7 linked regions of the Homo sapiens genome follow. The protein of the gene in region 4 purifies or fractionates together with the protein of the main gene of each other region. This does not show direct contact. Each region holds a gene or a part of one and is shown on either strand. Other genes may lie near its edges. The genes, in order: RPS6KA3, TMOD3, MOV10, BCAR1, GAK, HBD and ARPC1A.

Evidence for each region.
Region 1: the proteins of BCAR1 (region 4) and RPS6KA3 purify together in Homo sapiens (affinity purification with mass spectrometry; 2 studies listed by BioGRID). This does not show direct contact.
Region 2: the proteins of BCAR1 (region 4) and TMOD3 purify together in Homo sapiens (affinity purification with mass spectrometry; 2 studies listed by BioGRID and IntAct, with this or other methods). This does not show direct contact.
Region 3: the proteins of BCAR1 (region 4) and MOV10 purify together in Homo sapiens (affinity purification with mass spectrometry; 2 studies listed by BioGRID and IntAct, with this or other methods). This does not show direct contact.
Region 5: the proteins of BCAR1 (region 4) and GAK purify together in Homo sapiens (affinity purification with mass spectrometry; 2 studies listed by BioGRID and IntAct, with this or other methods). This does not show direct contact.
Region 6: the proteins of BCAR1 (region 4) and HBD purify together in Homo sapiens (affinity purification with mass spectrometry; 2 studies listed by BioGRID and IntAct, with this or other methods). This does not show direct contact.
Region 7: the proteins of BCAR1 (region 4) and ARPC1A purify together in Homo sapiens (affinity purification with mass spectrometry; 2 studies listed by BioGRID and IntAct, with this or other methods). This does not show direct contact.

What each region holds. Positions count from the first base shown.
Region 1 is NC_000023.11:20,176,410-20,179,909, forward strand, and holds part of RPS6KA3 (ribosomal protein S6 kinase alpha-3), read right to left. Parts: intron 676-3,500; coding exon 587-675; intron 108-586; coding exon of another isoform or gene 90-107; coding exon 25-89; intron 1-24. UniProt on the Homo sapiens protein: Serine/threonine-protein kinase that acts downstream of ERK (MAPK1/ERK2 and MAPK3/ERK1) signaling and mediates mitogenic and stress-induced activation of the transcription factors CREB1, ETV1/ER81 and NR4A1/NUR77, regulates translation through RPS6 and EIF4B phosphorylation, and mediates cellular proliferation, survival, and differentiation by modulating mTOR signaling and repressing pro-apoptotic function of BAD and DAPK1.
Region 2 is NC_000015.10:51,895,653-51,899,152, reverse strand, and holds part of TMOD3 (tropomodulin-3), read right to left. Parts: intron 2,735-3,500; coding exon 2,627-2,734; intron 1-2,626. UniProt on the Homo sapiens protein: Blocks the elongation and depolymerization of the actin filaments at the pointed end. The Tmod/TM complex contributes to the formation of the short actin protofilament, which in turn defines the geometry of the membrane skeleton.
Region 3 is NC_000001.11:112,698,659-112,701,239, reverse strand, and holds the end of MOV10 (helicase MOV-10), read right to left. Parts: coding exon of another isoform or gene 2,567-2,581; exon of another isoform or gene 2,526-2,566; coding exon 2,451-2,525; exon of another isoform or gene 2,427-2,450; intron 1,783-2,426; coding exon of another isoform or gene 1,669-1,782; exon of another isoform or gene 1,556-1,668; coding exon 1,430-1,555; intron 1,347-1,429; coding exon 1,258-1,346; intron 1,022-1,257; coding exon 900-1,021; intron 825-899; coding exon 733-824; 3' UTR 501-732; downstream 1-500.
Region 4 is NC_000016.10:75,241,625-75,245,124, reverse strand, and holds part of BCAR1 (breast cancer anti-estrogen resistance protein 1), read left to right. Parts: intron 1-2,034; coding exon 2,035-2,655; intron 2,656-3,500. UniProt on the Homo sapiens protein: Docking protein which plays a central coordinating role for tyrosine kinase-based signaling related to cell adhesion. Implicated in induction of cell migration and cell branching. Involved in the BCAR3-mediated inhibition of TGFB signaling.
Region 5 is NC_000004.12:925,817-929,316, forward strand, and holds part of GAK (cyclin-G-associated kinase), read right to left. Parts: intron 1-3,500. UniProt on the Homo sapiens protein: Associates with cyclin G and CDK5. Seems to act as an auxilin homolog that is involved in the uncoating of clathrin-coated vesicles by Hsc70 in non-neuronal cells. Expression oscillates slightly during the cell cycle, peaking at G1.
Region 6 is NC_000011.10:5,232,338-5,235,734, reverse strand, and holds HBD (hemoglobin subunit delta), read left to right. Parts: upstream 1-1,251; 5' UTR 1,252-1,301; coding exon 1,302-1,393; intron 1,394-1,521; coding exon 1,522-1,744; intron 1,745-2,642; coding exon 2,643-2,771; 3' UTR 2,772-2,897; downstream 2,898-3,397. UniProt on the Homo sapiens protein: Involved in oxygen transport from the lung to the various peripheral tissues.
Region 7 is NC_000007.14:99,342,898-99,346,397, reverse strand, and holds part of ARPC1A (actin-related protein 2/3 complex subunit 1A), read right to left. Parts: intron 2,106-3,500; coding exon 1,883-2,105; intron 1-1,882. UniProt on the Homo sapiens protein: Probably functions as a component of the Arp2/3 complex which is involved in regulation of actin polymerization and together with an activating nucleation-promoting factor (NPF) mediates the formation of branched actin networks.

The sequences.
Region 1 (3,500 bases), on a different chromosome or scaffold from region 4:
AGCAAGTTTTCATTCTATACTTACATTCCAGTCTATCGTTGAGAAAAATGAATGTCTTTTAATTTCTTCAACTCCATCTGGTCCTGCACCTATCAAAAATGGATTCACTGATAATTTTATTTCAAGGAGAAATATACATATTGCTCAGCCTTTGTTTTCAATACTTGTCTAATTAATTAATTAATTAATTAATTAATTTTGAGACAAGGGCTTGCTCTGTCACCCAGGCTGGAGCGCAGTGGTGTGATCTCAGTTCACTGCAGCCTCAACCTCTCAGGCTCAAGTGATCCTCCTACCTCAACTTCCTGAGTAGCTGGGACTACAGGCACGCACCACCATGCCTGGCTAATTTTTGTATTTTTTGTAAAGATGAGGTTTTGCCATTTTTCCCAGGCTGGTCTTGAACTCCTGGACTCAAGTAATTCTCCCGCCTTGGTCTCCCAAAGTGCTGGGATTACAGGCGTGAGCCACCAGGCCTAGCCTTGTCTAAATAGTTAATAATTCCACCACAAAACAAATATCTACTCCCCGCTAAAAACAAACACCAACAAACATACAACATAAACAAATTAGTTAAAATTTTTACCTAATCTGTTTGCAGGATTTCGCTTGAAAAGCATTCGTAAAAGACTCTGCGCTTCAGGACTCAAAAACTGTGGCATTCCAAGTTTGGCTCTAAATAATAAATCCACATAATATTTTATTTTTTGGAGGCATCTGTATTTTTATTTTTAAAAATTCTTAAATTAAACTTTTTGAGATACTTGTAGATTCACACTCAGTTGTAAGAAATAATACAGAGAGATCCCCTGTGCCCTTTACCCAGTTTCCCCCAATGGTAACATCTTACAAAACTACAGTACAATATCACATCCAGGATATTGACATGGAGACAATCCAATGATCTCATTCACATGGCACTGGTTTTATTTGCACTTATTTGTGTGTGTGTTTAGTTCTATGCCATTTTATTACATGTATGGCTTCTGTATGAATATGTCACAGTTTATTTATCCATTATCTGTTGAAGGACATTTGGGTTGTGCCCAGTTTGGGGCTAATATGAATAAAGCTACAGTGAACATTTATGTACAGGTTTTCATGTGAACACATAACTGAATTTTAGTTCATAATCTAATAAGCTTTTTCATTTTTCAAAATTTTGCAAAGAGCACTGTGAAAGTAAGATCATTTGAATCCTAGTTCTGGCTCTGTTACTAAGAACTTTGTGACAGTGGGAAAGCCAATTATTCTGGGCCTGTTATCATTTCTTCATAAGCAAAGGGATTGGTCTCTAGACCAATAGCTCCCAAAGTATAGCCTCGGAACTCCTCCTCAAAGGGAATTTAAGAAACCTAACATTTAAAGCTGCTAAGAGAACATGTGTTTCATATGCCACTTTTTCCTTTCTATTCCCTTTAACAGCCCCTGAAGGGAAGGGGAACTGTGGGAAAGAGGATTGTGAAATATTGAAGATACACAGTCTAAAAACTGCTGGCCTAGATGAACTTGAAGGTCTGTTTCAGCTCTAATTTTAATTCTTTTTCCAAACCTACAAATTAAAGAAACCAATGATCCTGTAAGTATGACAATAATAATAGAGCTGGGGAAAATTCCTATTTCAGAAACAGATCCATTTATTATTCAGTGGGTTGTTATTGAGCTATTACATGCCAGACACTGTTTAGTGCTGAGGATACAGAGATAAAGAGAGCCCATGAAACTCATGGTCCATGGTGAAGATGGATACAGATAATGCTAGTACATTAAGAGACAAATGCAGAAGAACATATGCAAAGAGTGACAAGGGAACAGTAGGGGATATTTAATTTAACATGGGAGATTATGAAAGGTCTTCAATGCAATCTAAAGGCTAACAATTTATTCATTTGGCTAGTGTTTCCCCAAATTTTACTGAATAACATTAATCCCTCTAGATAGTTAGCAACAATAAAAAAATTCATGACCCAATGAGCTTGTAGAATGCTATTTATTATATCCCCCTATTAGACACACAGAATTAAAATACACTGCATATAAAAAGGCTGAGAAATCTAGAGCAAACAAATCAGTTTTTTTTTTTTTTTTTTTTAAGACAGAGTATCCAGGCTGGACTGCAGTGGCACAATCTCGGCTCACTGCAATCTCTGCCTTCTGGGTTCAAGGGATTCTCGTGTCTCAGCCTCCCAAGTAGTTGGGATTACAGGTGTGTGCTACCACACCTGGCTTTTTTTTTTTTTTTTTTTTTTTTTGTAGAGATGGAGTTTTGCCATGTTGACTAGGCTGGTTTTGAACTCCTAGCCTCAAGTGATCCTCCCACTTCAGCCTCTCAAAGTGCTGGGATTATGGGTGAAATCAGTATTTTCTAAGTATTTATTTCCAGCACCTCTTTTTCAAAGAATACCTATTAATATCTTGTAGAATTAATATTCTCTTGGACAAATCTGGGGAAACACTATTGTATTAGGTAACAAGGATGCAGCAGAGGTCCTGAAACTGGACTAACATGACTAGACTTATTTTCAAGAAGGTAACTCCAAGGGTAATAGAGAACAATTTGGAGTGGGAAGAGGTCATAAGTGGTAGGCAATCAACTTAGGAATGTGGTCAGATAGTATGGGTAAGAGGTCACTGTTTTCTGAATACTTTAAGCAGTTTAATTCAGAGGAAAGGCTGGAACAGTGAAATAATTCTGAGATCGAATTTGGAGAATACCTAATTATGCAAAAGAGAGAAGGAATAAAAAATGATTTCCTGGTTTCTGGCTTGGAAGAGGGTGCATGAAAATGCTGATAACTGGGAGTATAAGAAAAGAACAGCAAATAAAGATACATTTAGTTCAAAGATGTGAAGTCATGCATGTAATATGTTTTGGGAGGGCCAGGCAGGTGAGTAAATAGAAACACAGGTCTAATGCCTGGTAAATTCATGTAAGAAAGAGTGATTTGAGAGTAATTAAAATGTGGAGGGTAGTTATAGGAAAGACTGAAGTCAGTCAGGAAAGAGTGCAGAGGGGGAAGAAAAGCATATCATAGACGGATCCTGGGGGATAAGACCATTTAAAAGGTAGTCAGAAAAAGAACAATTAGGGCATTAAAAATAATGACTGCAATTGGCTGAATCACACTGATTATTAAATCCCATGAGTTTATTATGTAAAGTAAGAAAAAGCAAAGTCAAAATACAAAAACTCGACTCACTGGATACTACCCCCACTAGGAAGTAACTAGGGCTCTGACATTAGAAACAATTTAAGAAAAGAATTAAGTATTTATTCTCTTTTTCTTGGATGAGCGTTATTTCAAGTAATTAAATCATCATAGTTGATGAGGGAAAGTTTGTTGAGAAAATACCAGCTAATAAATGAGGAAGGAATAATAATAATAATAGAAAATCATGGCTGGTGCATAGTGGCTCATGCCTGTAATCCCAACACTTTGGGAGGCGGAGGTGGGAGGATCACTTGAGCCCAGGAGTTTGAGACCTGCCTGGCAACATAG
Region 2 (3,500 bases), on a different chromosome or scaffold from region 4:
TATGTACTAATTTCCAAGGCAGGGGCCAAAAGAAATGGTCAAGGCAGAAGGCCAGAAAAGAACACAGATAACCAGAACCAGAAGAGCACAAAGGCCATTGAGAAGAAGGGGCTAATAAAATATTAAATTCCTCAAGTAATGGTATGTCTTCAATCTGCTTCTATTTCATTTCTCATAGGATACAGTACAGTGTTAGACATTTGACTCAGTGCTTAATAAGTACCATATTGATTAATTAACAGAAGCCTACAAGTGAAAAAAGAAAGAGGAGGGAGACTGGGAAGGAAAGAAAAAGAGACAGAGGTAGGAAGAGAGAAGAAGGGAAGGAAGGAGGGGAAGGAAAGAGAGAGAAAAAAGAACAATGATCATGAGTTTATATAAAACAGCCCCTTAGAGGGATCAAAAGCAAGGTTAAACTACAGAAAATATGGGTAAGACCAAGCTTAAAGTTAAAGGAAAGGCAATAGGGCGTAGAGATACTAAAAAAACTGTGGCTGGTATCTACATACTTGTCCTTTCTATTAGCAACAACTAGCTATGTGACCTGGAACAAATCCCTTATCCATACATGTATTCGAATATTACTGATGGTCTATTATTTGATTAGCACTGTCCTAGAGATTCAGAGATAAAACACATTGGTCCCTGCCTGGCAGAATGTTCATTCTAGCTGGGGAGGGACACAGATAATAAAAGTAAGCAAAGTGCAATGTTAGAGGGTAAAAAGAAAAAAGGCACAATAGGGTAGATGGGGAATACTGGGGGTGGGAATGGGGTTGGTATTTTATATAGCACGGTCAGGAAAAGCCTCAACTAGAAGGTGACATTTGAGCAAAGAGTCAAAGTGATAAGACAAAGCTAAGTGGATTATTTTAGGAAGAAAGTTCAAGGCAGAAGGAACAAATGTACAGGCCCTGATTTGGGAGTCCACATGGCATGCTGAAGAAGGCTGTATGGCTAGAGTAGAATGAAAGAAAGGGCAAGTAAATGAGATGAAGTCCACTCATGTGAAGCCTTATAAGGCCACTGAAAGATTTTTATTTTTACTCTTAATGAGATGGGAAGCTGCTAGAGGGTTATCCGAATAGGAATGAGGTCATTTAACTTAAGTTTTAAAAGAATCACTCTTGGTGCTATGTAAAGAACTGACTTTGGGGTAGGTAAAATAGATGAAGGTAACCCAATTAGGAGGCTGTTGCAATAATCCAGGTGGGAAAAGATGGTGGCTTGGGTCAAGGTGGTAGTTGTGAAAATGGTGAGAAGTGGTTGGATTCTGAAATATTTTGAAGATAGGGCCAAAGGTAGGTTTAAGTTGCAAGAAAGGGATGTCGAGAATGATTCCATTAGTTTTTTGTTTTTTTTTTTTTTTTTGCTGGGCGTGGTGGCTCACGCCTGTAATCCTAGCACTTTGGGAGGTTGAGGTGGGCGGATCACAAGGTCAGGAGCTCGAGACCAGCCTGGCCAATATGGTGAAACCACATCTCTACTATAAATACAAAAATTAGCCAGGCGTGGTGGCGCATGCCTGTAATCCCAGCTACTCAGGAGGCTGAGGCAGGAGAATCGCTTGAACCCGGGAGGCGGAGGTTGCAGTGAGCCGAGATTGCGCCACTGCACTCTAGCCGGGGCAACAGAGTGAGACGCTGTCTCAAAAAAAAAAAAAAAAAAAATTTTTTTTTTTTGTTTGCCTGAGCAATGAAAGATTGAAATTGCATTTAGTAAGATAGAAAACAGCAGAGAAAAGCAGGCACAGGATGGAAGTCAGGAGTTTGAGGACTTACATGTAAGATGTCCATTAGACATCCAAGTAAAGCTGCTGAGGAGGTAGCTGGACATGAATACGGAGTTCAGGAGAGAGATACAAACTGTAGATAATAACACTGGGAGTCATCAGCAAGTATATGAAGATAATATATATATTTCTGAGATTACCCAGAAAGTCAGTGTAGACTGAGAAAAGAAGGACCACGTTCTGGGCCATTCCAATATTTAGAAGTTGAAGAGATATGGAGAAACCAGTACAGGGCTTTGAGAAGGAATGTCCACTGAGGTAAGGGGAGCCCCCAAGGGAGTGAGTGATATTCTCAAAGCCAATGAAACAAAAGGTTTATACCATGATCAAGTGGGATTTATCTCAGGAATGAAAGGCTGGTTCAACATATAAAAGTCAATCAATACACCACATTGACAGAATAAAGGACAAAAACCATATGAACATCTCAAGAGACACAGCAAAAGCATTTAACAAAAATCCACCACTAAGGATCCATAAATGGAATCCTCTGAAGATGTTAAAATAATGTGGTAGATCCCTATGTATTGATACAACAAAACTTTAAAGATAAACTGCAGAGTGAAAAATCAAGTTGCAGAACAGCATATACTACATGATTCCATTTATGTTTTAAAAAATTCATAGGAAGGAGGGGGAAGCTGGGAGGGGGAAAAAATTCATAGGAAGGAAATACAGGAAAAAATAAACACAAAAAGCTGGTAAGTAATATACTGCCTAATAGTGAGCTAAAACATTAACTATAAAAAAGGGGTAAATCTTGTTCATAAAAATCACCACTGTAACACACCCTGGGCATGTCATAATTTTGATATTCTCAAGTCGCTTACTTACAGTAGCAACAGGGTCATTGCTCCGGGTGGCTGCAAGACTGAAACATTTCACATGTGTGTTGGTTTCCAAAGCCTTTGCAAAATCTTTTAGGGTTGGAATTGGGATATTCTTGAAAGACAATAACATAAAACATCATTACATTTCAATTTTCATTATATTTAGTTTCCATTAATCAAATATATGGTTTTTTTTGCTTTAAAATGTATTCAGAAATTATACAAACACCTAAGAATTAGTCTACAAATGAATACAAATAATGCAGCTTCCTCCATAATTATCTGACTTATCTACGATGGAGCATTTGCATAAACTACTGACTCAGAGCAGAGCACATATCACCATTTCTCTAGCATTTAGGTTAAAAAAAATTCTCATTATTCTCACCTTTCATTATTCCTTTTATTTATTTATGTATTTTGAGACAGAGTTTTGCTCTTGTTGCCCAGGTTGGAGTGCAACGGCGCAATCTCAGCTCACTGCAACCTCTATCTCCCAGGTTTAAGCAACCCTCCTGCCTCAGCCTCCCAAGTAGCTGAGATTACAGGCATGCACCACCAGGTCCAGCTAATTTTGTATTTTTAGGAGAGATGGGGTTTCATCATGTTGGTCAGGCTGGTCCCGAACTCCTGACCTCAGGTGATCCACCCTCCTCGGCCTCCCAAAGTGCTGGGATTACAGGCATGAGTCACTGCACCCAGCCTTCATTATTCTTTTTATATGAAAATAAAAGTGGATTTACTTTTCTACAAGGAAAGAAATGAAGGAGTCCATCTCTGATGAGTACGATTCCTGAGGCAGACAGACTGTTCTCAGTCACTTAGTTTAAGCTACAAAGCACTAAGAGAGATTAACCCTACACTACTTGAAGGAGAGA
Region 3 (2,581 bases), on a different chromosome or scaffold from region 4:
TCTGCAGTAGGGGACCCAGAGTCCCAGGCCCCTGGAGTTGTTTTCGGCAGGGGCCTTGTCTCTCACTGCATTTGGTCAGGGGGGCATGAATAAAGGCTACAGGCTCCAACGTGTGTGGCAGCTTTCGGTCTTTCCCTCTGGGTGCTTGGTGTCCCATCTCTTTTCATGTCCAAGTTGCTTGCCAGCCTGGCCCCCTGTCTACAAAGCAGGCCAGTGGCCAGCAGGGTGGAGTCTTAGAGCAAAGGATGAGGTCATGCCTGGCTCTGGGCCAAGGAGGCGGGTGAAGGGAGTGGTCTGTAGCAGGGGGCTAAACTTAGAAACCTGTGGGTGGCTTCCCTGCCACCTCCCACTGGGTTTCCTCCCCCGAGTGTGGGGGCTGGGTTCCTCTCCAGCTGGGAGGGGATGTGACCCTCAGCAGGGCTGAAAGTCCCACCCTTCCCTACAGGGTCAGCTTAGGGGCTCAGGAAGCTGGGGCCAGGCAGAGGAGACATTATCAAGGCTTTTGCATAGAACAAGATTTTGTTTTCAGAGTTTTCTTCCTTCCCCTTCCCCCAATTGTTAGCAGCTTGATGTGTCATTCTCCCCAGCAGGGGAGGGGGTGGAATGGCTTGGGTTGTAAACTCCCTCCCCCAGCCTTCCTGTCCCTTGGAGGGGCAGTTCAGCTGGGTTCTGGTTCAGGGTCAGGCAGGCAGTTAAGGCTTGGCTGGTGCGAGAAGGCTGGGTGCTGTGTCTTCAGAGCTCATTCCTCCACTCTGGCTCCACTTGCAGAGACAGGCCCCCTTCACCCTCCCGCTCCTGGGGGAGGTAGTCATGGCTGTGGGGCCCTGGAAAGAGAGAAAGTACACTGTGTCTTCCTTACCACCTCCTCTGGCACTGTCCCCACCCTGGCCCAGCCATACCTGAGGTAGAGGGGCTGAGCTTGCTCAGACCTTGCAGTAAATTCTGTCCCTGTTGCAGGTCCAGTTTGGCAGGGAAGGGACACCCGGTATACCCTCCGTTTTCTTTACAGAACTCCAGGAATCTGTGGGGTACAGAGGAGTGCCAGCAGAGACTGGAGGCTAAGCCACGGTCCTGTCCCATCTGAGCTGTACTTGCTCAACCTCTGGATGTCATTTAACTTATAAATACAATAGTGATGCTGTGAAAATGGACACATCTGAGGATTAACTGAGCGATAAGCAAGCGCTTAAAAAAGATCCACCTGCCCTAGGCAGGGGCTGTGGCCACTAAGAGGGAGAATGGGGTGGGAATGCTCACACTTTCCAGTCAGGGTCATGGCCCAGGAGAAGGGGGTTCCCCACGATGATGAGCAGGGCCTTGGCCCGGGTCACAGCTACATTGAACCTCTGGAAGGAAGAAGTGGTGTGGTCATGGGAGGGAAGAGCCCCGAGAATGGAAGAATTCCTGCCACCCCGACCAGCCCTCAAACCTTGGGGTTCTTAAGGAAACCCAGATTAAAGTCCAGATCCAGCTGCACAAAGCTCTGGCTGCTTCGCACGGTGGAGATGAGGATGACGCTTCGTTCTTGGCCTTGGAATTCTTCTACTGAACCCACCTAGTGGGGAAAGAGGCAGGGCCTGAGACCAGCCAGGGGTGTCAAAGGGGTGCCCTACCCCAGGGAGCTTGCCTTCCAAGGAGGGTACAGAGAGGTCACTGGGCAATTGTAGATCAGTGAGTGAACCAGTGCTGCGACACGGCCCAGGGAAAGGGGATGGGAGGTAGGCTGTGGAAGCTGAAACATGAAGGTTGAATCCTGCTGAGGGCTGGGGCCTGCAAAGTGTTCTAAGGAAAGAAAACAGCATTGCAAAGAACACGGGAACTCAGAGCAGTGACTTTCAAACTTTCCTGAAAACAATCACTAAGTATCTGTTAAGAATATACAACCCTGGGCCCTAACCCGGACCCCCGATCAGAATTTCCAAGAGAGAGGCCTGTAAGTCTTAGAGCAGTGTTTTCAACCCTGGCTGCATATTAGAATCACCTGAGAAGCTGTAAAAACTACCAGTGCCCTGGCTCTGCCCCGATAGCTGTATGAGCTGGTGGGTGGGGCCCTGGCATGGGGGCGGGGTATTAAAAGCTCTCCAGGTGATTGTTATCTGCAGCCAGTGTTGAGACCAGAACCTTAAGAGAGAGGCTACTGGGGGTGGGGGTGGCAGCATCACATGACAGGCCACGGAATTTGGACTTTATCCTTAGGGCAGAGGCCTCAAACCTGCCTCAGTCTAAGAATGACAGGAGGTGTTTGTTAAACATGCAGGCTTCCTGATCCCATCCCAGACCCTTAAGTTGGAATCTCCAGGAGTGAGAGGCTCAGGGAGAGCTCGAGCTCTATTCAAGGCAGCAGGGGTGGGACGGGGACGTGGGCTGGAGTGGAAGCTTGAGGAAGTCTCTGGAAGTGGGCAAGTGGGGGCACACGGAAGGCAGGGAGTGACTGTGGAACAGCATGTCACCTTCAAGTCCTTGATGTCATCCAGTCCTCGAAGCTCCCTGTCAAGTTTGGTGATGCAGTAACGGATTTTCTCCACCTGGAAGGAGGGGACAGGTGCCTTTCTCTCGTGCCATTAACCTAATGCAAGAGGGA
Region 4 (3,500 bases):
GCAGGACAGCCCCCGCCCTCCCGCTCCTCTGTGGGGCTCTGGCCCCTAGACCTGCCGCACTGCCTGTCCCGTCCTGCCTCAGAGCCTGGGACATAGTCCACCGTTTTCTTTTTTTTTCTTTTTGTGTAGTTTTTCAGCCCCAAAGCAAGAAACACTCATTCCTGAAAAACAGGAAGAGAAACTATCTCCATTGTCTCAGACATCTCTGGTGTCTTCCTGACCCTCTCTTGTCTTTACGTTTCACAGGACATTTTCTTGAGATGTGCTTTTCACTTGAGTGCCTTTTTCATTTTGTTGTAATCATGGTGTGGACAGTGTTGCAGCCATCCAGGGCCTCTGCCCTTGTGCTCACCTTGGCTCCAATATGACTCCACCTGGGCCTGCCCTCTCCTAGCTGCCCCCTGGCCCCTCCCTTGGGCCTTGCTCCTCCTGGCTCTCCACACTCCAGCCTCTGGCCCTTTTAGGGACTGGAGGCTCCTAGCTGCTCTGGAGAAATGGGCTCCCTGCTGATGATGTCCACCCAGGGCAAGTGAACCATGGGGTCTGAATGTCTGATCCTGGGACCTGGGGCAACTACTGCCTACCCAGGCCGCTGCCTGGTATGCCATCGCCCTCTGATGCCGGCCAGGGAGATGGCGCTCAGAGGGGCACTGTCCAGCCCCTGCTCATATAGGGGAGGAGGGTGGGCCCTAGGGACTTGAAAGAGGCCTCACCCCCACTCCTCTGCCCCAAGGCACAGGCTCCTGCTTCCTGTTTCTGCCCAAGGGGGCGTGGCCCTTTCTTCCTTGTTTCACTCCTTGCAGATGGAGTCCAGAAAGTGGGACTTGGGCCCAAGTGGGGATGGTCACACAGCTACTGGCTGGCCAGAACCCAGGTCCCATTTCCGAGTCAGAGTCTCGACCAGGCTGCACATCTAAGACGCCAGGAGACTCTGAGGAGGGACCTTGCAGGGCAGCCCAGAGCTGAGGCCAGGCTGGTGGGGTGGCTGGAGCCCAGTGCCGGTCACTGTCCAGCCAGCCTGGCACTGTTCTCACACCCGGCTTCCCTGTGTGTGAAGTCTGGGGCCCCTGTGGAACCCATGCAGCCCTCTGCTGCCCTAGGAGGGGCCGCAGCCCTGGCCTTGTCTCACCCCGTGCCTCCCTCACACCTGCCTTTTGCTGCAACCGCCCACACCCTCCAGCCAGGGATCCTCTGTCTCTCTGGGCCCATCCTGCGCCTGGCACCTCGATGGGGCAGCAGCGGCAGGGGCGAGGATGCATGAGTGTGTGGTGGGAAACTGCGAGGCCTCCCTGCCTGGGCTCTAGTGTCCCAGCGAGGCTCCGCCCCTGCCCTCGCCACGGCACTCATGCCTCTGATCCCACAGCCTCCTCCAAGTCCCTCTCGGACTGCTTGGCTCCTGGGCCACATGGAGCACGTACCCGGCTCTGCAAGGGTTTGCTGAGGGCGACGGGGCCAGGACAGGGAGGGTGTGCCTCCTGTTTCTTTCCCAGCCTTGGGGAAGGTGTTTGAAGTTTCTAAATTAATTACTGACTTTTTGGATTTGGGGTAGATAGACTTTGTTAAGGAAGCTCTGTCTTATTGTTGTTCATTTTTTTATCCTAAGAAGCTGTTCTTTTTGTCAGATTATTTTCGTGCACCTCGAGAGAGAACCATTTGCTATTTGTTTTAACTTGGCAGCTTTGTCGTGATTACTGCCGCTCTCCTTGTGTTGGTCCAGGTAGCAGAGTGGCCTTGGGTGGGGCTTTTAGGGATATCTTGAGGGTCATCCCTGGAGTTTTGGTGGTGACAGTGGTCAAGAGGATTTTGAGGTGCTATACAGGTGCAGTTGAAAGAAAGGCCAGGATCAGCTGGGCCTTTCTGCTGGGGAACAGGTGGGGACAGTGGAGGCAAAGGCACAATGATCTCGCCAAACTCCACTGAGTTCTTTTCCTAGTATCAAAGCTGGGCACCTCCCCAGAGCAGGGCAGGAGCTGGGGAGCCCCTGACGCCCCATGCACATCCTTCTGTTCTCACACCTGTGTCCTCTCTCCCCAGAACGTGCTGGCCAAAGCGCTCTATGACAATGTGGCCGAGTCCCCGGATGAGCTCTCCTTCCGCAAGGGTGACATCATGACGGTGCTGGAGCAGGACACGCAGGGCCTGGACGGCTGGTGGCTCTGCTCGCTGCATGGGCGCCAGGGCATCGTGCCTGGGAACCGCCTCAAGATCTTGGTGGGCATGTATGATAAGAAGCCAGCAGGGCCTGGCCCCGGCCCTCCCGCCACCCCGGCCCAGCCTCAGCCTGGCCTCCATGCCCCAGCGCCTCCGGCCTCCCAGTACACGCCCATGCTCCCCAACACCTACCAGCCCCAGCCAGACAGCGTCTACCTGGTGCCCACTCCCAGCAAGGCTCAGCAAGGCCTCTACCAAGTCCCGGGTCCCAGCCCTCAGTTCCAGTCTCCCCCAGCCAAGCAGACATCCACCTTCTCGAAGCAGACACCCCATCACCCGTTTCCCAGCCCGGCCACAGACCTGTACCAGGTGCCCCCAGGGCCTGGAGGCCCTGCCCAGGATATTTACCAGGTGCCACCTTCTGCCGGGATGGGGCATGACATCTACCAGGTCCCCCCGTCCATGGACACACGCAGCTGGGAGGGCACGAAGCCCCCGGCAAAGGTAAGGCTGTCCTGGCACAGTTGTGCAGCCACACAGGTATAGCCCAGGCCCTGGTTTGTGGGCACAGAAGGGTCCAGCCACCCTCAATCACCGGCATTCCAGGAGTGGCTGTGTGTTTGGTCTGGGGTCAAAGTGGGAAGTGAGTGTTTGGGGGGTGTTCATTTGTCCGGGGAAGATGGATGTGAATGGACCCAGAGGGGAGATGCTCCGCTGGCCTCAGCCAAGCCGACCCGAGTGGTGGTGTCACCAACCACAGGGAGCAGCCTGTTGAGGCGTTCCAGTGGGCAGGCGGGGCTTGGCACATGGGGTCGGCAGTTGCTGGGCCCCCGCAAGGGAGAGGCCAGCCACTTCATGCTCAGGCTCCCCTGTGCCATCTGGGTTTACGTGTCAGCCTCTAGATGGGGTTCCGGCACATCTTCTGGCCGCCCCTGCCTCCACAGGCCAACCCCTCTCCACTTATGGAACATGCTAGGGGCCAGCGGGTGCGTATGGTGATCTGGATGTGACTCCTGGGAGGACGCTGCCCCTGAGATTGCTAGAGGAGGACTGCCCTGAGAGCCTCCTGGGCTCTTGCTGATGGGATGCTGGGCCTGGGGACAAGACCTCTGGCCTCCAGACCCTGAGCCCGCTTCCCAAGTCCACAGGGCCCCTGCCTCCCAAGCTCACCTGCCTGTAGGAAGGAGTCAGCACTAGACACTCAGCCCAGGGCTGAGGTGGAGACCTCATTGGTGCCAGCTGGGCAGCGAGTCAGCTGGGAGTTACCCCCACCCCCGCCCATGGGTGGCCTGGTACCCAGGAGGCATGGCCGGAGGTCGTTGGCGGGTGGGGGACTCCATGGACATGGG
Region 5 (3,500 bases), on a different chromosome or scaffold from region 4:
TAAACAAACGTCTGTGGTTTATAGGCCCCCAGTGTACGACGTTCTGTTACAGCAGCACAGACGGACTGGGACACGGGGATGCGCACCCACACAGACAACCATGAGCAATTCACCAGGAGTCCACGGAGTGGAGGAGGAGGAAAGGGGAGTGGCCCAGCCCAACTGTCACCTCCCCCAGTGGTGAGCCCACCCGGGGGTCGTCCCCAACAGTGACCTCCCCGAACGTCTAATTCACCCCAAGGGGGTCCTCCCCCGACAGTGACCTCCCCAAACGTCTAATTCACCCCAGGGGGTCCTCCCTGGACAGTGACCTCCCCGAACGTCTAATTCACCCCAGGGGGTCCTCCCTCGACAGTGACCTCCCCCAATGGTGAGCCCACCCATGGGGTCCTCCCCAAGAGTGACCTCCCTGTATGTTAACAGACAGAAACCACAGAAGTAACACAGGCTTGTTCCTGCCAAGGGTCAGCCGCAGCTGAGCATGAAGTGGTGTTGGCCTGTCACTCTCCGCCCCAACAGCCTCTACTACCTTATATGCTCAGACATCTCCTCCAGGGCACAATGCGCAGAGCAACGGGGGCCAGGACAGGGGCCCTAAGGACACCTCCCTGGGGCTCCCAGCCCCCACTCCACCACTCGACCTCTGGCAAGCAACTAATCTCTGCAAACGTCACTTTTCTCTTCTGCGAGATGGAAGTAATTATAGTACCCACTTTCCAGGGCTACTGTGAGGACCACACAATCCACATAAAGTACTACTGACCATGCTCGGCAAATACGAAGAGCCCCTAAGGGTTGCTGTGGTGGTTCTGACCATTTTTACTTCACGCTGGGAACTAGCCAAAGTGGACAAATGTTGATGATCAAGCTGTCAACTTGGAAGTGAAGGCGGTTGGTACCAGGAGAGCCGCCAGGGGGCAGCTACTCTGTGGCAGAATCTGGGCCTCACAGGCCTGATGACCTAGAACCAACTAACCAAGCCCCAGAGACCCTGCTTACCTGCGCTCCGCACTGCCCCGCACCCCTCCCAGCTCACCTGCGCTCCGCACTGCCCCGCAACCCCCCCCACCCCGCTCACCTGCGCTCCGCACTGCCCCGCACCCCTCCCGGCTCACCAGCGCTCCGCACTGCCCCGCACCCCTCCCCGCTCACCTGCGCTCCGCACTGCCCCGCACCCCTCCCGGCTCACCAGCGCTCCGCACTGCCCCGCACCCCTCCCCGCTCACCTGCGCTCCGCACTGCCCCGCACCCCTTCCCGCTCACCTGCAGTCCGCACTGCCCCGCACCCCTCCCCGCTCACCTGCAGTCCGCACTGCCCCACACCCCTCCCGGCTCACCTGCGCTCCGCACTGCCCCGCACCCCTCCCGGCTCACCTGCAGTCCGCACTGCCCCGCACCCCTCCCGGCTCACCTGCCCTCCGCACTGCCCCACACCCCTCCCGGCTCACCTGCGCTCCGCACTGCCCCGCACCCCTCCCCGCTCACCTGCAGTCCGCACTGCCCCGCACCCCTCCCGGCTCACCTGCAGTCCGCACTGCCCCGCACCCCTCCCCGCTCACCTGCAGTCCGCACTGCCCCGCACCCCTCCCGGCTCACCTGCAGTCCGCACTGCCCCGCACCCCTCCCCGCTCACCTGCAGTCCGCACTGCCCCGCACCCCTCCCGGCTCACCTGCAGTCCGCACCCCTCCCCGCTCACCTGCGGTCCGCACTGCCCCGCACCCCTCCCGGCTCACCTGCAGTCCGCACTGCCCCGCACCCCTCCCGGCTCACCTGCAGTCCGCACTGCCCCGCACCCCTCCCGGCTCACCTGCAGTCCGCACTGCCCCGCACCCCTCCCCGCTCACCTGTAGTCCGCACTGCCCCGCACCCCTCCCCGCTCACCTGCCCTCCGCACTGCCCCGCACCCCTCCCTGCTTACCTGCGCTCTGCACTGCCCCGCACCCCTCCCTGCTTACCTGCGCTCTGCACTGCCCCGCACCCCTCCCTGGGTGAGCGCAGGCCCCGCACCCCTCCCTGGGTGAGCGCAGCCACCGCACTTCAGGCTCTGGGTCCAGGAGAGGTACAAAGAAGCAAGGATGACAGAACCCTGGTGGCTAAGAGAACAGCACAGAGCTGCAGAGGCTGGTGCCCTCAGTCACATGGCCAAGAGAACAGCACGGAGCTTCAGAGGCTGGTGCCCTCAGTCACAAGTCCTATGTGGGAAGAGGGTCGGCTACAAGGCTGGCTCGCCACAGCAACCTAAGGGTCTACTTTTTTTTGAGATAGAGTCTCGCTCTGTCGTCCAGGCTGGAGTGCAGTGGTGCAATCTTAGCTCACTGCAGCCTCCACCTCCCAGGTTCAAGTGATTCTCCTGCCTCAGCCTCCTGAGCAGCTGGGATTACAGGCACGCGCCACCATGCCCAGCTAGTTTTTGTATTTTCAGTAGAGATGGGGTTTTGCCATGTTGGTCAGGCTGGTTTCGAACTCCTGACTTCGGGTGATCTGCCCACCTCGGCCTCCCAAAGTGCTGGGATTACAGGCGTGAGCCGTCGTGCCCGGCCCGGTCTACTTTTAAGATCAGTCTAAGGCTGGGCACATTATCTCATGCCTGTCGTCCCAGCACTCTGGGAGGCCTAGGCCAGGGGGATCACGTAGGCCCAGGAGTTCAAGGCTGCAGTGAGTCGTGATCGCTCCACTGCACTCAACATGGGCGACAGAGCCAGACTCTTTTCAATAAAAGAAAATGATCTCAAGTGTACCCTGCGGAGGACACATGGGGCCAGCATGCGGCCTCCCCTGCCACTGAGCCCACCTTGGAGACATGGGGCCTTCCTGCCACTGAGCCCACCTGGGAGGGTTTCTGAAACTTGCAACCAAGAGTCTTGCTTGTACCACATGATTCTGCAACTGTCAGTCAGTACCAAATATTCACAGTGCCCTCACCCAGTCCAGAACATTCTTTTTTCTTTTCTTTTTTTTTTGGTGAGACGGAGATTTACTCTTGTTGCCCAGGCTGGAGTGCAATGGCGTGATCTTGGCTCACCGCATCCTCCACCTCCCAGGTTCAAGCGATTCTCCTGCCTCAGCCTCCTGAGTAGCTGGGACTACAGGCATGTGTCACCACACCCGGCTAATTTTGTATTTTTAGTAGAGACGGGTTTCCCCGTGTTGCCCAGGCTGATCTCGAACTCCCGATCTCAGGTAATCCACCCGCCTCGGCCTCCCAAAGTGCTGGGATCACAGGCGTGAGCCACTGCGCCCGGCCCAGAACATTCTAAGTAAGTGAAGGGAGGAAGCCTCCAAAAGCCATGTCAAGGAGGAAGAAGGGTGGAGAGTCAGGACCACACACAAGTGGCCCTGGGGGTGGGAGTAGGCTGTGCCCTCCCCATTCCTTAGGCCAGAGCTTGACCCCCAAGGCTCCTGAGCGGGCCCAGCCACTCAGCTAACACTGCGCATGGCACACAAGGGCTGCGGGCTGGCTCAAATTACATACAACACCCAACCAAACGCACGAGGCGGG
Region 6 (3,397 bases), on a different chromosome or scaffold from region 4:
CACCAACAGAGTTTGAGTTTCTATTGATCCATATCACCACCAAAATTTGAACTGTCAGTCTTATCTCTTCTCTTGTCTCTTTTTTCCTCTTTTTTTTCCTTCCCTTCCCCTCTCTTCGTTTCTTTTCTCTCCTCTTCTCTTCTTTCCTCTCTTCCCTTCCCTTTCTCTTTCTCTTCCCTATCCCTTCTCCTCTCCTCTCCCCTCCTTTTTTCTCCTCTCCTCTCCATTATTTATTTTTCCTTCTTCTCCTCCATCCCTTCCATCCTCTCTCTTCCCCTCTTCCTTCCTTCCTTTCTCCATTTCTTCCTCCTCTTTCCTTCAATCCTTCCTTTTGGATATGCTCATGGGTGTGTATTTGTCTGCCATTGTGGCATTATTTGAATTCAGAAAAGAGTGAAAAACTACTGGGATCTTCATTCCTGGGTCTAATTCCACATTTTTTTTTAAGAACACATCTGTAAAAATGTTCTGTACTAGCATATTCCCAGGAACTTCGTTAAATTTAATCTGGCTGAATATGGTAAATCTACTTTTCACTTTGCATTCTTTCTTTAGTCATACCATAATTTTAAACATTCAAAATATTTGTATATAATATTTGATTTTATCTGTCATTAAAATGTTAACCTTAAAATTCATGTTTCCAGAACCTATTTCAATAACTGGTAAATAAACACTATTCATTTTTTAAATATTCTTTTAATGGATATTTATTTCAATATAATAAAAAATTAGAGTTTTATTATAGGAAGAATTTACCAAAAGAAGGAGGAAGCAAGCAAGTTTAAACTGCAGCAATAGATTTGTCCATTCCAACCTCTCAAAATTCCCTTGGAGACAAAAATCTCTAGAGGCAAAGAAGAACTTTATATTGAGTCAACTTGTTAAAACATCTGCTTTTAGATAAGTTTTCTTAGTATAAAGTGACAGAAACAAATAAGTTAAACTCTAAGATACATTCCACTATATTAGCCTAAAACACTTCTGCAAAAATGAAACTAGGAGGATATTTTTAGAAACAACTGCTGAAAGAGATGCGGTGGGGAGATATGTAGAGGAGAACAGGGTTTCTGAGTCAAGACACACATGACAGAACAGCCAATCTCAGGGCAAGTTAAGGGAATAGTGGAATGAAGGTTCATTTTTCATTCTCACAAACTAATGAAACCCTGCTTATCTTAAACCAACCTGCTCACTGGAGCAGGGAGGACAGGACCAGCATAAAAGGCAGGGCAGAGTCGACTGTTGCTTACACTTTCTTCTGACATAACAGTGTTCACTAGCAACCTCAAACAGACACCATGGTGCATCTGACTCCTGAGGAGAAGACTGCTGTCAATGCCCTGTGGGGCAAAGTGAACGTGGATGCAGTTGGTGGTGAGGCCCTGGGCAGGTTGGTATCAAGGTTATAAGAGAGGCTCAAGGAGGCAAATGGAAACTGGGCATGTGTAGACAGAGAAGACTCTTGGGTTTCTGATAGGCACTGACTCTCTGTCCCTTGGGCTGTTTTCCTACCCTCAGATTACTGGTGGTCTACCCTTGGACCCAGAGGTTCTTTGAGTCCTTTGGGGATCTGTCCTCTCCTGATGCTGTTATGGGCAACCCTAAGGTGAAGGCTCATGGCAAGAAGGTGCTAGGTGCCTTTAGTGATGGCCTGGCTCACCTGGACAACCTCAAGGGCACTTTTTCTCAGCTGAGTGAGCTGCACTGTGACAAGCTGCACGTGGATCCTGAGAACTTCAGGGTGAGTCCAGGAGATGCTTCACTTTTCTCTTTTTACTTTCTAATCTTACATTTTGGTTCTTTTACCTACCTGCTCTTCTCCCACATTTTTGTCATTTTACTATATTTTATCATTTAATGCTTCTAAAATTTTGTTAATTTTTTATTTAAATATTCTGCATTTTTTCCTTCCTCACAATCTTGCTATTTTAAATTATTTAATATCCTGTCTTTCTCTCCCAACCCCCTCCCTTCATTTTTCCTTCTCTAACAACAACTCAAATTATGCATACCAGCTCTCACCTGCTAATTCTGCACTTAGAATAATCCTTTTGTCTCTCCACATGGGTATGGGAGAGGCTCCAACTCAAAGATGAGAGGCATAGAATACTGTTTTAGAGGCTATAAATCATTTTACAATAAGGAATAATTGGAATTTTATAAATTCTGTAGTAAATGGAATGGAAAGGAAAGTGAATATTTGATTATGAAAGACTAGGCAGTTACACTGGAGGTGGGGCAGAAGTCGTTGCTAGGAGACAGCCCATCATCACACTGATTAATCAATTAATTTGTATCTATTAATCTGTTTATAGTAATTAATTTGTATATGCTATATACACATACAAAATTAAAACTAATTTGGAATTAATTTGTATATAGTATTATACAGCATATATAGCATATATGTACATATATAGACTACATGCTAGTTAAGTACATAGAGGATGTGTGTGTATAGATATATGTTATATGTATGCATTCATATATGTACTTATTTATGCTGATGGGAATAACCTGGGGATCAGTTTTGTCTAAGATTTGGGCAGAAAAAAATGGGTGTTGGCTCAGTTTCTCAGAAGCCAGTCTTTATTTCTCTGTTAACCATATGCATGTATCTGCCTACCTCTTCTCCGCAGCTCTTGGGCAATGTGCTGGTGTGTGTGCTGGCCCGCAACTTTGGCAAGGAATTCACCCCACAAATGCAGGCTGCCTATCAGAAGGTGGTGGCTGGTGTGGCTAATGCCCTGGCTCACAAGTACCATTGAGATCCTGGACTGTTTCCTGATAACCATAAGAAGACCCTATTTCCCTAGATTCTATTTTCTGAACTTGGGAACACAATGCCTACTTCAAGGGTATGGCTTCTGCCTAATAAAGAATGTTCAGCTCAACTTCCTGATTAATTTCACTTATTTCATTTTTTTGTCCAGGTGTGTAAGAAGGTTCCTGAGGCTCTACAGATAGGGAGCACTTGTTTATTTTACAAAGAGTACATGGGAAAAGAGAAAAGCAAGGGAACCGTACAAGGCATTAATGGGTGACACTTCTACCTCCAAAGAGCAGAAATTATCAAGAACTCTTGATACAAAGATAATACTGGCACTGCAGAGGTTCTAGGGAAGACCTCAACCCTAAGACATAGCCTCAAGGGTAATGCTACGATTAAACTCCAACAATTACTGAGAAAATAATGTGCTCAATTAAAGGCATAATGATTACTCAAGACAATGTTATGTTGTCTTTCTTCCTCCTTCCTTTGCCTGCACATTGTAGCCCATAATACTATACCCCATCAAGTGTTCCTGCTCCAAGAAATAGCTTCCTCCTCTTACTTGCCCCAGAACATCTCTGTAAAGAATTTCCTCTTATCTTCCCATATTTCAGTCAAGAT
Region 7 (3,500 bases), on a different chromosome or scaffold from region 4:
AAGGAGTACCAGCTGACATAAAGTTTAGCCTTGAGAGAATATTAATGAAGTTAGTTTCCTATCTCATTACAATGAAACTTCCAAATAGTTTCTAGCAGGTAACATTTTGTTAGCCTTGATTTCACATTTGAAAGAAAAATGTATGTTTCAAATTCGTAACTCAATTTTTTTTTTTTTTTTTGAGACGGAGTTTCACTCTTGATGCCCAGGCTGGAGTGCAATGGCGTGATCTCGGCTCACCGCAACCTCTGCCTACTGGGTTCAAGAGATTCTCCTGCCTCAGCCTCCCAGGTAGCTGGGATTACAGGCATGCACCACCACACCCCGTTAATTTTTTTGTATTTTTAGTAGAGACAGGGTTTATCCGTGTTGGTCAGGCTGGTCTCGAACTCCTGACCTCAGGTGATCCACCTGCCTCGGCCTCCCAAAGTGCTGGGGTTACAGGCATGAGCCACTGTACCTGGCCCATAACTCAATTTTACCGCAAATTCCCAATCTCTTTTTGAAGAATAAAATTTCTGAAGTTTTACTAAATTACAAAGGTAACATGATAATCCCCTTCTTTCAATTTCAGCAGAATACAAATAACAAAACAGCTACAAAGAGTCATGTATACTCTGCTATTTTTAGTAGAAACACAAACACTGCCAGTTTAGTAGTAAATGACAACTTTACGTTGAAGGATATTTACCAGTCATGCTGAACACATGCCACACAGAAAAATAATTTTTTTTTTTTTTGAGATAGAATCTCACTTTGCCGCCCAGGCTGGAGTGCAGTGGCACGATCTTGGCTCACTGCAACCTCTGCCCTCCGAGTTCAAGTAATTCTCCTGCTTCCTCCCAAGTAGGTGGGATTACAGGTACCTGCCACTGTGCCTGGCTAATTTTTGTATTTTTAGTAGAGATGGGGTTTCACCATCTTGGCCAGGCTGGAGAATAATTGTTTCCTTATCAAAACAAACAGGAAGGAGTAGTTAAAATAAGTTTTGGCCATAAAATAAACCTGTGTTTTGACTGGGTCAGCAAGAAGTAATTTAAAAAATGTGCAATAGCTGATTAGACTTCTAAGATTCTGGTGAGTTTTGACTTCAACAGTTTAAACAAGTAAAATATTACACCAAGACACAGATTTGGTTGGCAAATAAGCTTTAAAGAAGGAACATTGACCAGGCGTGGTGGCTCACGCCTGTAATCCCAGCACTTTGGGAGGCCGAGGCGGTGGATCATGAGGTCAGGAGTTCATGACCAGCCTGGCCAAGATGGTGAAACCTTGTCTCTACTAAAACTACAAAAATTAGCCGGGCACGATGGCAGGTGACTGTAATCCCAGCTACTCAGGAGGCTGAGGCAGGAGAATTGCTTGAACCAGGGGGCGGACGTTGCAGTGAGCCATGATCGTGTCACTGCGCTCCATCCAGCCTGGGCAACAGAGTAAGACTCTGTCTCAAAAAAAAAAAAAAAAAAAAAAAAAAAAAGAACATTGTTATCTGTAGGAATCCTACATAGATATCCTGTGAAAAAAAAAAAAAAAGAAAAAATATTCCTCAGGGAACGGAGACTCTTTCAATGTTATTATTTGTAAATGAGAGTAAGAAAACAGCAATTTGCGCAGTATAGAGTGAGAACAGTAATAGCATCTTGCAGAAGAAACAAGTTAGGCGATCAGAACATGGACACAATAGCTCTATGTTAATATAAAAAACGTGCGATTTAACTTAACATGCACATGAGAAGGGAAAATGCTCAGACAGAATCGAGAATTTCAGAGAAAAAACCACACAACTCCGGATGAGAAAAACTGGAGTTATGGTGAGCCCTCACACAGCAGTGCAAATGTAAATTCTATAGAGAGGGATAGAAAAAATTCAGATGTCACTCACCAGTCATTTTCAGACTCAAAGTAACAAACAGAAATGAGTCGTGCTCCACTTCCCACAGCAAATTTGTTCTCTAGGGGGGACCACTTCACAAAAGTAGCTGCGCGATTAATTCTCAGGATCACCAGGGTTGGCTTCCAAACACCATCTTTCTGACTCCAGACATAGGCATTGCGGTCTGCCCCACAAGTGACAATGCGGTCGCTCTTGGGAGCCCAGTCAATACCTGCAAGTGAGACATGGGTCATCTGCTTTGCCCAGTCAATGACAAACAACTGCGGCACAGGCAGGTGGGTGGCACTGGCATGCCAGGATGAGACGTGGTCTTGGGACCTTCCTCCCAGGCACATCCTTCCCACTATCTATGTCCTGATCACCGCCTCAAGGAAAGGCAAGGATGCTTCTCTGCAAAGCGTCTGGGACTCGGGATTGTCTATGAGGTCATGTAGAAGAGCTGTTTTATAATTACAGACTTTACAAAACTAAACGGGGCCATTCTTTCCACCCATTCACACATTTCTAAGACTTCTAAAGATCTGAAGATTCATTACTTCTTTCTTTCCTCTTTATTAGATTTTTGTGTGTGTGAAAATAACTGTATTCATTAACACACCTCATTCTATGATATTAACCAACAGTCTGCTACATGGCATTCAACTAAAACAGCATACAGGGTAAATAAAAATAATCTTTAGTGTAAAGAGGGGGAACTATATATTGTGATTCATCATATATTCTTCTGAAAGTCACTGCCAGTTGAACCATACTGAAAACCTTTTCTACATGATGCAGGTCCTGTGAAAGAATCCTTGTTTCTTTGCATCTAAACCAGGAAGATACCTAAATATGTATCTGAATGTAAGGTTTATTTTTCTTATTTGATGAGACTTTACTTATCTGGTACCTCTGTGAAGAATCCCAAAGTCAAGGTCAGTTTTTCATATACCAAGACTCAAGGTCAGTTTCTTATATACCAAGAGCAAAATTCACCATGACTCATTTAACACTTATTGATGAGGTATTTTCTTTTCTTTTCTTTCTTTTTTTTTTTTGAGATGGAGTTTCACTCTTGCAGCCCAGGGTGGAGTACAATGGCACGATCTCAGCTCACTGCAACCTCCGCCTCCCGGGTTCAAGCGATTCTCCTGCCTCAGCCTCCCGAGTAGCTGGGATTACAGGCAGATGCCACCATGCCCGGCTAATTTTTGTATTTTTAGTAGAGACGGGGTTTCACCATGTTGACCAGGCTGGTCTCGAACTCCTGACTTCAGGCGATCTGCCTGTCTCAGCCTCCAAAGTGCTGGGATTATAGGCATGAGCCACAGTGCCTGGCCTTGATGAGGTATTTTCTATAAATATAATTTCACATTAAAAAGTACAGAAATATTACTAATAAATATTTATTACAGATCTCTCTCTAAAAATTAATAATTAGCATTCTTGACATTTATATGGAAAAAAGACAAATATACCTCTGAGCCTCAATTACCCATAAGTCATAGTGACTGAAGAGTTAGGCCGGGCGCGGTGGCTCTTTGGGAGGCCGAGGCAGGCGGATCACGAGGTTAGGAGATCGAGACTATCCTGGCTAACACGGTGAAACCCTGTCCCTATTAAAAAT